Homo sapiens: one gene and its partner. The protein of the gene in region 1 interacts with the protein of each later gene in a pairwise test. Each region holds a gene or a part of one and is shown on either strand. Other genes may lie near its edges.

What was found.
Region 2: the proteins of LRPAP1 (region 1) and RALGDS interact in a two-hybrid assay, tested with the Homo sapiens proteins (one study listed by BioGRID).

The regions. Positions count from the first base shown.
Region 1 is NC_000004.12:3,522,219-3,526,020, reverse strand, and holds part of LRPAP1 (alpha-2-macroglobulin receptor-associated protein precursor), read left to right. Parts: intron 1-969; coding exon 970-1,114; intron 1,115-3,802. UniProt on the Homo sapiens protein: Molecular chaperone for LDL receptor-related proteins that may regulate their ligand binding activity along the secretory pathway.
Region 2 is NC_000009.12:133,114,450-133,118,251, reverse strand, and holds part of RALGDS (ral guanine nucleotide dissociation stimulator), read left to right. Parts: intron 1-3,802. UniProt on the Homo sapiens protein: Functions as a guanine nucleotide exchange factor (GEF) activating either RalA or RalB GTPases and plays an important role in intracellular transport. Interacts and acts as an effector molecule for R-Ras, H-Ras, K-Ras, and Rap.

The DNA of each region.
Region 1 (3,802 bases):
ACTCTGCTCTGCACGGAAGAGCCTTCGCTTCCCTGAAGGGCTAGCCTGCCCCAGCGCACGCCTCTTAGCGGCCGGGCCAGCCCCGAGGCCAGAGTTGATGAGAGCTGGCCGGTGGGTTTCATTCTGCTGCTTGCCTCGGCCGCCTGGCATTCTGGCCCAGTCTTTCTGACGTGGGGACACTCTTGGCCTAAATCCTGTCTTTGCAACCAAAAAGCAGTGTGCCCAGCGGTCACCTCACTTGCTTCCTTCTCTCACCCAGGGTCCCAGAGCTGGGAGGGCAGGGGTGGGATGAATGAAGCGTGGCCTGCCCTGCGGAGAGGGATGAGGGTGGGGCGGGGAAGTTCCTCAGCCCCAGTGCGGCAGCTCGTTCCGGGGCGCTGCCTGTGTGGTCTACGCCAGCAGGTAAGTGAGAGGGTGACAGATTCCTGCTCCAGAAGGATCTGGGGCTGTGTAAGAACCGTCTCAGCAAGACAGTTCGGATCATGGTACACTTGAGAGGTGGTGACTGAGGGTCTTTGGGAAATGAAGATGGGGCAGATCTGAGATTACAGTGATTTTTTTTAAAAAAGAACTTCTAGGTGTCTGTGTCCTTGCAATATGTATCTGCAATGGTAATGCAGTGGGTATCTTCTTCCTGCTCTGTTTATCCGAGTGCCCGATGACTGTCCTCAGGTGCTAGGGTGGGGTGTCCTGTTACAGCCGGACAGGAATGAGCAGCCGCTGCTGGTGGGGAGCCCCCGATGGACTTGGGGTTTCCGGATCGTGTATACAGACAGGCCTAGAGACTGGTGTCCATGTTGAGTTCTTGTCTAAACCTGTGGGGTTTGAATCCTGCTGACAGTGACCCTGACTCCACCTCTTCCTGGTCTCCCAGAACCTCCCGGTGGCCAGCCTCCTCCGAGGTCAGTTTCTCGCTGTGTCCTGGTCCGTCCTGCTCGTGGCTCACAGGCTCCTCCCCTTCGTTCGCAGCTGCATCTTCCTCCCGTGAGGCTGGCCGAGCTCCACGCTGATCTGAAGATACAGGAGAGGGACGAACTCGCCTGGAAGAAACTAAAGCTTGACGGCTTGGACGAAGATGGGGAGAAGGAAGCGAGACTCATACGCAACCTCAATGGTACGTTTGTTTCTTTCCTAATGCAGGTCGAGTATCCCTCTTCCTAAATGCTTGAGAGCGGCAGTGTTTTGGATGTCGGATTTTGTTTTTGGATTTGGGAATATTTGCATTATGCTTAATCTGGATATCCAAAATGAGCCTTTCCCCGAGCATCCTGAGTGCCCAGAAAGCTTAGGATTTGTGTTGGGGGCTCACCCTCATGAGGGAGGTGGCCACTGGCTTCAGTGTTTGGGGGGGCTAACCCTCATGAGGGATGGTGGCTGCTCGCCTCAGTGCTGTGGGCTACGCCTCTGACTCCTTGGCTTTTGGCCAAGGGGCCCATTGGGCACAGCCTGCGGGGGGCTATCCTCCGAGCACAGATGCGCCCTTGGCCGTGGTCTCAGTTTGCTGTCACAGATGCCATTGGCACGCCAGAGGGAGGGCCAAGGCAGGGGCTCTGGGTGCAGGAAGGGGCCGGAGGACAGCAGGAGGCTCTGTCACCCAGAGGAGGAAGCAGGTCTGCCCTAGCATCTTGAAGTTTTGGGGACATACTCCAGATGTCATCAGAATGGACACTTGGTTGTCATGCGCTTAGTGAGTCCTCGTCCCTGTGGGTATTCAAGAAGAGGCAGGACAGTCGCCTGCTTGGTACCAGCATACGGAAGACAGGTGTGTCCTCAGAGCCGGGAGGGTTTTAAATGACAGAGTTGCGACTGTTCCTTTTGGACCCCTCTCCTCCGCCATCCTCCCTCACCACGGGCCCGTCGGCAGGGCACTGGCGGGCAGAGGACGCACACCAGGTGGGCCCGTGGGACTGGGGTTGGGGCTGCTCCGGAGAGTCGAGTGCTCAGCTGCCTGCTGTCAGCTATGTGTAGCAGCCCTAGGAGCTGCTGTGCCTCCACCCAACTGCTGCCCCTGGGCCTGACCCCAGGCACCCCTTCCCCAATCCCCTCCCCCGCTGCTCCCTGTGTGACCTGGGCCCCCGGCACAGTCCCCTGCCCCCCACCTCCGTTTCCTCCTCCTGTCTCACAGGACGGTGGTGTGAACCAAGTGGGATACTCCCCACTGTGGTGGGGGTGGGGGTGGCTGCCATCGCACTTGTTGCTGTCGTGAGGGTGGCCCCAGAGCCCTGGCCATGTCTGGAGTCTGCTGTAGCCCTGCTTTTCACACGCGCTGATGGCCTCAGGCATTGCAGCGCCCGGGTTGTCTCTGGTAAAGAGAGGAGGTGTCTACGGAGTTCCTTCGTTAGGCCTGATGCTCTAACACCTACTCCTCAAAACTCGTTGTCGTCCCATTTGACAGGCTCAGAGAGGGTGATTTGTCTGGAGTTGCAGAGCCGAGTAGTGCAGCAAAGATTTGGAGTCAGGGTTTTCTGACTCCTGAGCAGGTGGTCTGTTCCCAGCCACCCCTCTTCTCCCATTGGCAGGCATCAGCAGACATGTCATGTGGCTGCGCCCGGGTTAAAGACAGAGGGCCGGCTTCATTTTTGCTGGTTTATGCCACCATGTTCAAGAGTCTGGTTGAGACGTAAGCCAAGATACGGCGGCAGGGACTGCCTGGGGAAGAGAGACATGGCTGAAACAATTCTGGATGGTTGCGTCCCCACCAGCGTGTCTAGTGGGCCATTCCCAAGGGCCAAGAAAGAGCCTGTCCTGGAGGTGCCCCCAGGAAGAAGGGACTGGCTATGCAGCAGGGCAGCATTCGGGGCCTGGAGGAGACAGAGTAGCTTGCAGGGGGCACAGAAGTGGGCTAAGAACCAGCTCCCTCCTGCAGGCCAGGCAGTGTCCTTGCAGGGTGTCCAGGTCTGTGGCCCAAGTGGAGCTGTCTTGTTTTCTGCCATTGCCTAGTGACCTGGCAGAAAACTTAGTGGGACTCTAGGAGCCGGCGTCCCAGAAGCAGACCCTGCCCACACTCAGGAAAGAGGCTCGTCCTGGCCAGTTCCCCGCCATCTTCTGGGTGTGGTCCCTGGACCCCCGAGGTCCCCCGTGCCATTATCAAGTGTGATACCATACCTGGGGGACCAGCCATAGCCAGGTGTGCCTGCCCTTGGCACCCTCCATGCTGAGGTCCACCCTGAGACAGACGGGCCACGCTCCACTCTGCCCTGCCCTGCTCTGCTCTGGGGTTCGCTCCTGTCCTCACCCCCACCGCGCCCCCAGGGCCACTTCACTCCCCAGGCAGGGAGTGTGGGGCGGCGTCCGTCCTCCCCAGGCAGGGGGTGTGGGGCGGCGTCTGTCCTCCCCAGGCAGGGGGTGTGGGGCGGCGTCCGTCCTCCCCAGGCAGGGGGTGTGGGGCGGCGTCTGTCCTCCCCAGGCAGGGGGTGTGGGGCGGCGTCCGACTTCCCCAGGCAGGGAGTGTGGGGTGGCGTCTGTCCTCCCCGGGCAGGGCGTGTGGGATGACGTCCGTCCTCCCCAGGCAGGGAGTGTGGGGCCGTGTTCATCCTCCCCAGGAGCTCTAAGGGCTCGGTGCTCCTGAGGCCGCCTCCAGCTTCAGTGCTCTGTGACTCCATTCCATGCAGAAGAACCCAGCACCTCCAGAATCCAGAACCTTCCATAGTCCCTGCTGCTGATCGCAGCCGTGGGTACTCTGCCTTTTGATGGGGTCTGACCAGCCACTTTGGGCTCTGGCTCAGAGCTTTTGGCTCCAACTAGGAAGGCTTGAGCCAGGCTAGCCTCAGAGCCCCAGGACATGGCCCACCCTCCCCGTCTC
Region 2 (3,802 bases), on another chromosome or scaffold:
CCCAAGGCAAAGGGCCTGTCCCTGTGTGGGTGTGTGTCCCTGCATGCATGTGTACAGACTGTGGTCTTCCAGGAGAGCTTCCTGGGTGACTCTGAAGGGGCAGCCCCCAGGACCCTCAGGTTCCCCTCTTGCTCTACTCGGGAGGGTCCCCCAGAAGAGGGGGACCAGGCTGGCTGGTCCTGGGTCTTTGTTCCTTCTCCAGGCGGGGGATGCTCAGGCATGCTGGCCTGTTTCCCGGGAGGCTCAGGAATGGCCCTGGGAGATATCAAGCTGCTCGTTGCCAGAGCTGGGGTCTGATTCTTAACCTGGAAATTGGGCATTTCCAGGACCTGTCTGCGTTGCCAATGAGAAAAGAGTGGGGAGATTTATCACTGGCCCTCTGCAGGCAGGCTCTGAACGAGCCAGTGGAGCGGTTTCAGGAAGCTGCACCCAGGCAGTCAAGGACTGGTTCCCAAGAGCTGCTGGTTGGCCGCCCAGATGGCTCCCATGGCGTGGTGCCACCATGCTGTGGCCACCCAGTCCCAGGGTTGGACTTCCAGCCTTGCAGGCCCAGAATCACTGTGTTCCCAGATATACAGCAACAGCAGAGCAGTGTTCCCCATTTGATTGTTAAGGGGCAGACACTGATGCATGCAGCCTCATGCAGGACAAGCTGAGCTTTGAGCAGACCCAATTCTCCCAGTTCCGCACACCTTGGCTGCCCACGGGCGGGGGAGGCAGTGGGATGGCAGCCCAACAGTGGCTTGGCGGGCGGGGCAGGACACCTGCGTTGGAGGGTTTTGGCGTTTTCCTCCATGGGGAAGCTTGCATGCTTTGGCAGCCTCCCCTGTAGTCATTCCTGGAGACTTTTGTCCATCTCAACCGAGGGGCAGGGAGCCTGGGCTCTGGAGAGAAGAGAGCTATGCTGGGATGCCAGCTCAGCCCCCTAGCAGATGTAGACGTGCTCCTGAGCCTCAGTTTCCTCATCTGTAAAATGGACATGATGCCAGCTCTCCTGTTAGGGTTCTGGTGAGGACCCTCGAGTTAGACAAGAGACCTGAGGAGCAGCCTGCACAGCACTTGGCACAGTGGACAGGTAGCAGCTGCCACAATGAGGTTTTCTGATTAGGTGCCAGGGGAGCGGCCTGACCCTTCCAAGTGCCCTGGGCTCCTCGGGTGCGTCACCTGGCACCTTCAGCATGGCACTTCCCTGGCCTGGTGTCTTGTAGGCCTTTTGCCCAGGGCACGTCCACAAACCTCTCGGAGATGCAGGTGCTAGAAAGCTGGCCCTGCCACCCTCCCCTGCGAATTTGCTGTGTGACCTGAGGAAATCCTTCCTGTCTCTGGCCCCTCCTCCACATCTGTGCCACAAGGGGCTGGACTCTGCTCCAAGCCTGAGACCATGGCAGAGGCAGCGCCAGGCCTGGGTGGGTCCCAACAGGCCAGGGTTCAAATCCCTGTTCTGGCTGCCACGTCCTGGCTCCTGACCTGGGCGAGTTCCTCTCAGGCTGTTTCCTTGTCCATCAGGCAGGGCGTTAGGAGGATTAAACGTGATGGGTGTCCAAAGGGCCTTGCACCCAGGAAGTGCCCGCATGTGCTGGGCACTGTAGCTGGTTAAAGTTGGGGCTGCCCTGCACCCCCTTGGGACCAGCCCACCTTCCTCCTCAGCTGCCACCAGCCACGCCCCTCCCGGGCCTGGCCCTGTGTTCACCTGACTGTCAGGGGCTGGGCGTGGACAGGGACCCTGGATGCCCAAGGCTTGCGGCTGACCTGGAGGTCTGGTTCTCCCTCCTCCTGCTTGAGGCACGATTTTCCCATCAGTGAGTAGCAGGGCACAGGCCGGCAGGGAGGGTTTCTGGAGAGATGGGCCGGCCTTTGCGGGGCTCAGCACTGGTTGGTTCCCAGCCTCCACTTTCTGAGGCCAGGGAGCATCCTGGTGGGCAGGCACCGCGTGTCGTCCCGGTCTGAGGCCGCCTCTGTGGGCTGCCATGCCCAGGATCAGGAGTGTGGCCCACCCACACCCCGGGCTGGCCTCCTGTCATCTTGATGCTTTGTCTGTGCGCTGGGGATCAGGGTTGGGTCCACCCACCTGGAGCTGGAGGGCAGGCCCGAGGGCAGGAGGGTCACGGACACGGACACGAGGCCCTTGCGTTCCACCTCCCTTGATGGGGCTCATGGTCCGAGCTCATGACTTGAGAAGTCCTGGGCTCTCACCTCTGGCTCAGCCAGCACACGCCCCACCGGCTCCTGTCCTCGGGCATGGGTCCCCACCTCTGTAGGACGGAGAAGGGCACAGCAGCGTGGGCCCCGCACTGTCGCAGGAGCCTGGGCTCTGTAGAGAGCGAGCAGCCTTCTGTGATGCGTTTTACGTTTGGCTTCTGTATTGGAGCGGAAAGCTGAAGTCAGAAAGCTGCTCCCACCCACTGGGTTTCAGGGTGACTCAGCCTCTCTTTACAGTGTCCCTCGGCTAGGTCCCTGAGCCTTAGGCAGGCCTCAGACAAGTTTCCCTCAGGTTTTTACAGCCCAGCATCCGTCGCCGGCCCCAGGGGGATATGATGTCAGGTGTTGTCCGGTACCACGCCATCAGGTCCCAGTGCCGGTCACCGAGCTGTGTGCATTCTCTCTTGACCCCCACTGTTGCCTGTGACAGGTAGTGCTGCCCTCCCCAGATGACACACCAAGGCCGAGGGCCAGGGGCTGGGCAGAGCCAGCGAGAGACAGGGAGCTGCTGTCTGGTGGGCCAGAACTGTGAGGTGCTGGCAGGGGGGTGGCAAGCACCCCGGGGTGACCTCTGGTGACTGGGACCTGAGCAGCAGCTCAGAGGGGCTTGGGAGGTCCCCCAGGACAATCTCACGCACACGGAGGCTCTGCCGTGAGCCTTTCCACACACAGGCCCGGGGAGGACCAGGGGCGGAGCAGGCCGAGGTGCAGGCTAGAGCCCTCTCCTCACTCCGCTTCAGCCCTCAGCCAGGTCTCCTTGGGAGGGGCCGGTGAGTTCCTGGAGCCATCCATGGGGCAGGGGGCCACTAGCTACGGTTTCCAAGGAAAGGCGTCTGAGTCCGGAGCTGCACCAGAAGGCTGATGCTGGGAGGAGGTGCCGTTGGCCTGAGCGGGGAGATGGCAGGGCTGGGGCAGGCCCCGTAGGGTTCCTCAAGACCCTCACTATTCTACCCAGAGGGAGTCTGGGTTTGGCCTGTGGCTTCCTCCTTCTGTCAGCCAGGGACACGGCATCCTGCTGGCCTGTCACTCTGAGAAGGCTGATCAGGTGACACACTCACCAGACACCACCAGGCCCTGTTTCCCATCCTCATCTTCAGGGCTCTGGGCTGTGTCCCTGGAGACATTGGGGTGTGGGGGCCCCTGCTCACCGGGGACCCCATGCCACCCTCACTGCACTGACCCAAATGTTAGAAGGCCAGACAGTGTGTTTACAGGCACAGCTGCCGACTGGGTCCCAGAGCCCAGGGACATCAGCATGCCTGCTAGGGGTGGGACAGGAGTGTCCCTTGAGGACACAGCCAAGCACGTGGTGTTCTTTTCTCCTCCTAGCAGTCAGCTCATAGCGGCTGCCTGGGCACCTGCCCTCAGGGGAAAGCGTTTTCTCTGCATCAGCTGTTCACTAGGCCGTTCCTGCTCCTCCCGCTCTGAGCTCCCAGCCCGGCCAGAGTGCCCTGGGGCCCAGGCGCTGCCCAGATGGGCTGTCTGCTAACAGAGTGACCTAGGGTGGCCTGTGGGTGCTGGAACCCTGCCTTTCTTGCTGCAGAGGGTTCTGGGGCAGCTGCCAGGGCTGTTGGCTGCTTTCTTTCTCTGTCCTGTGAGGGGG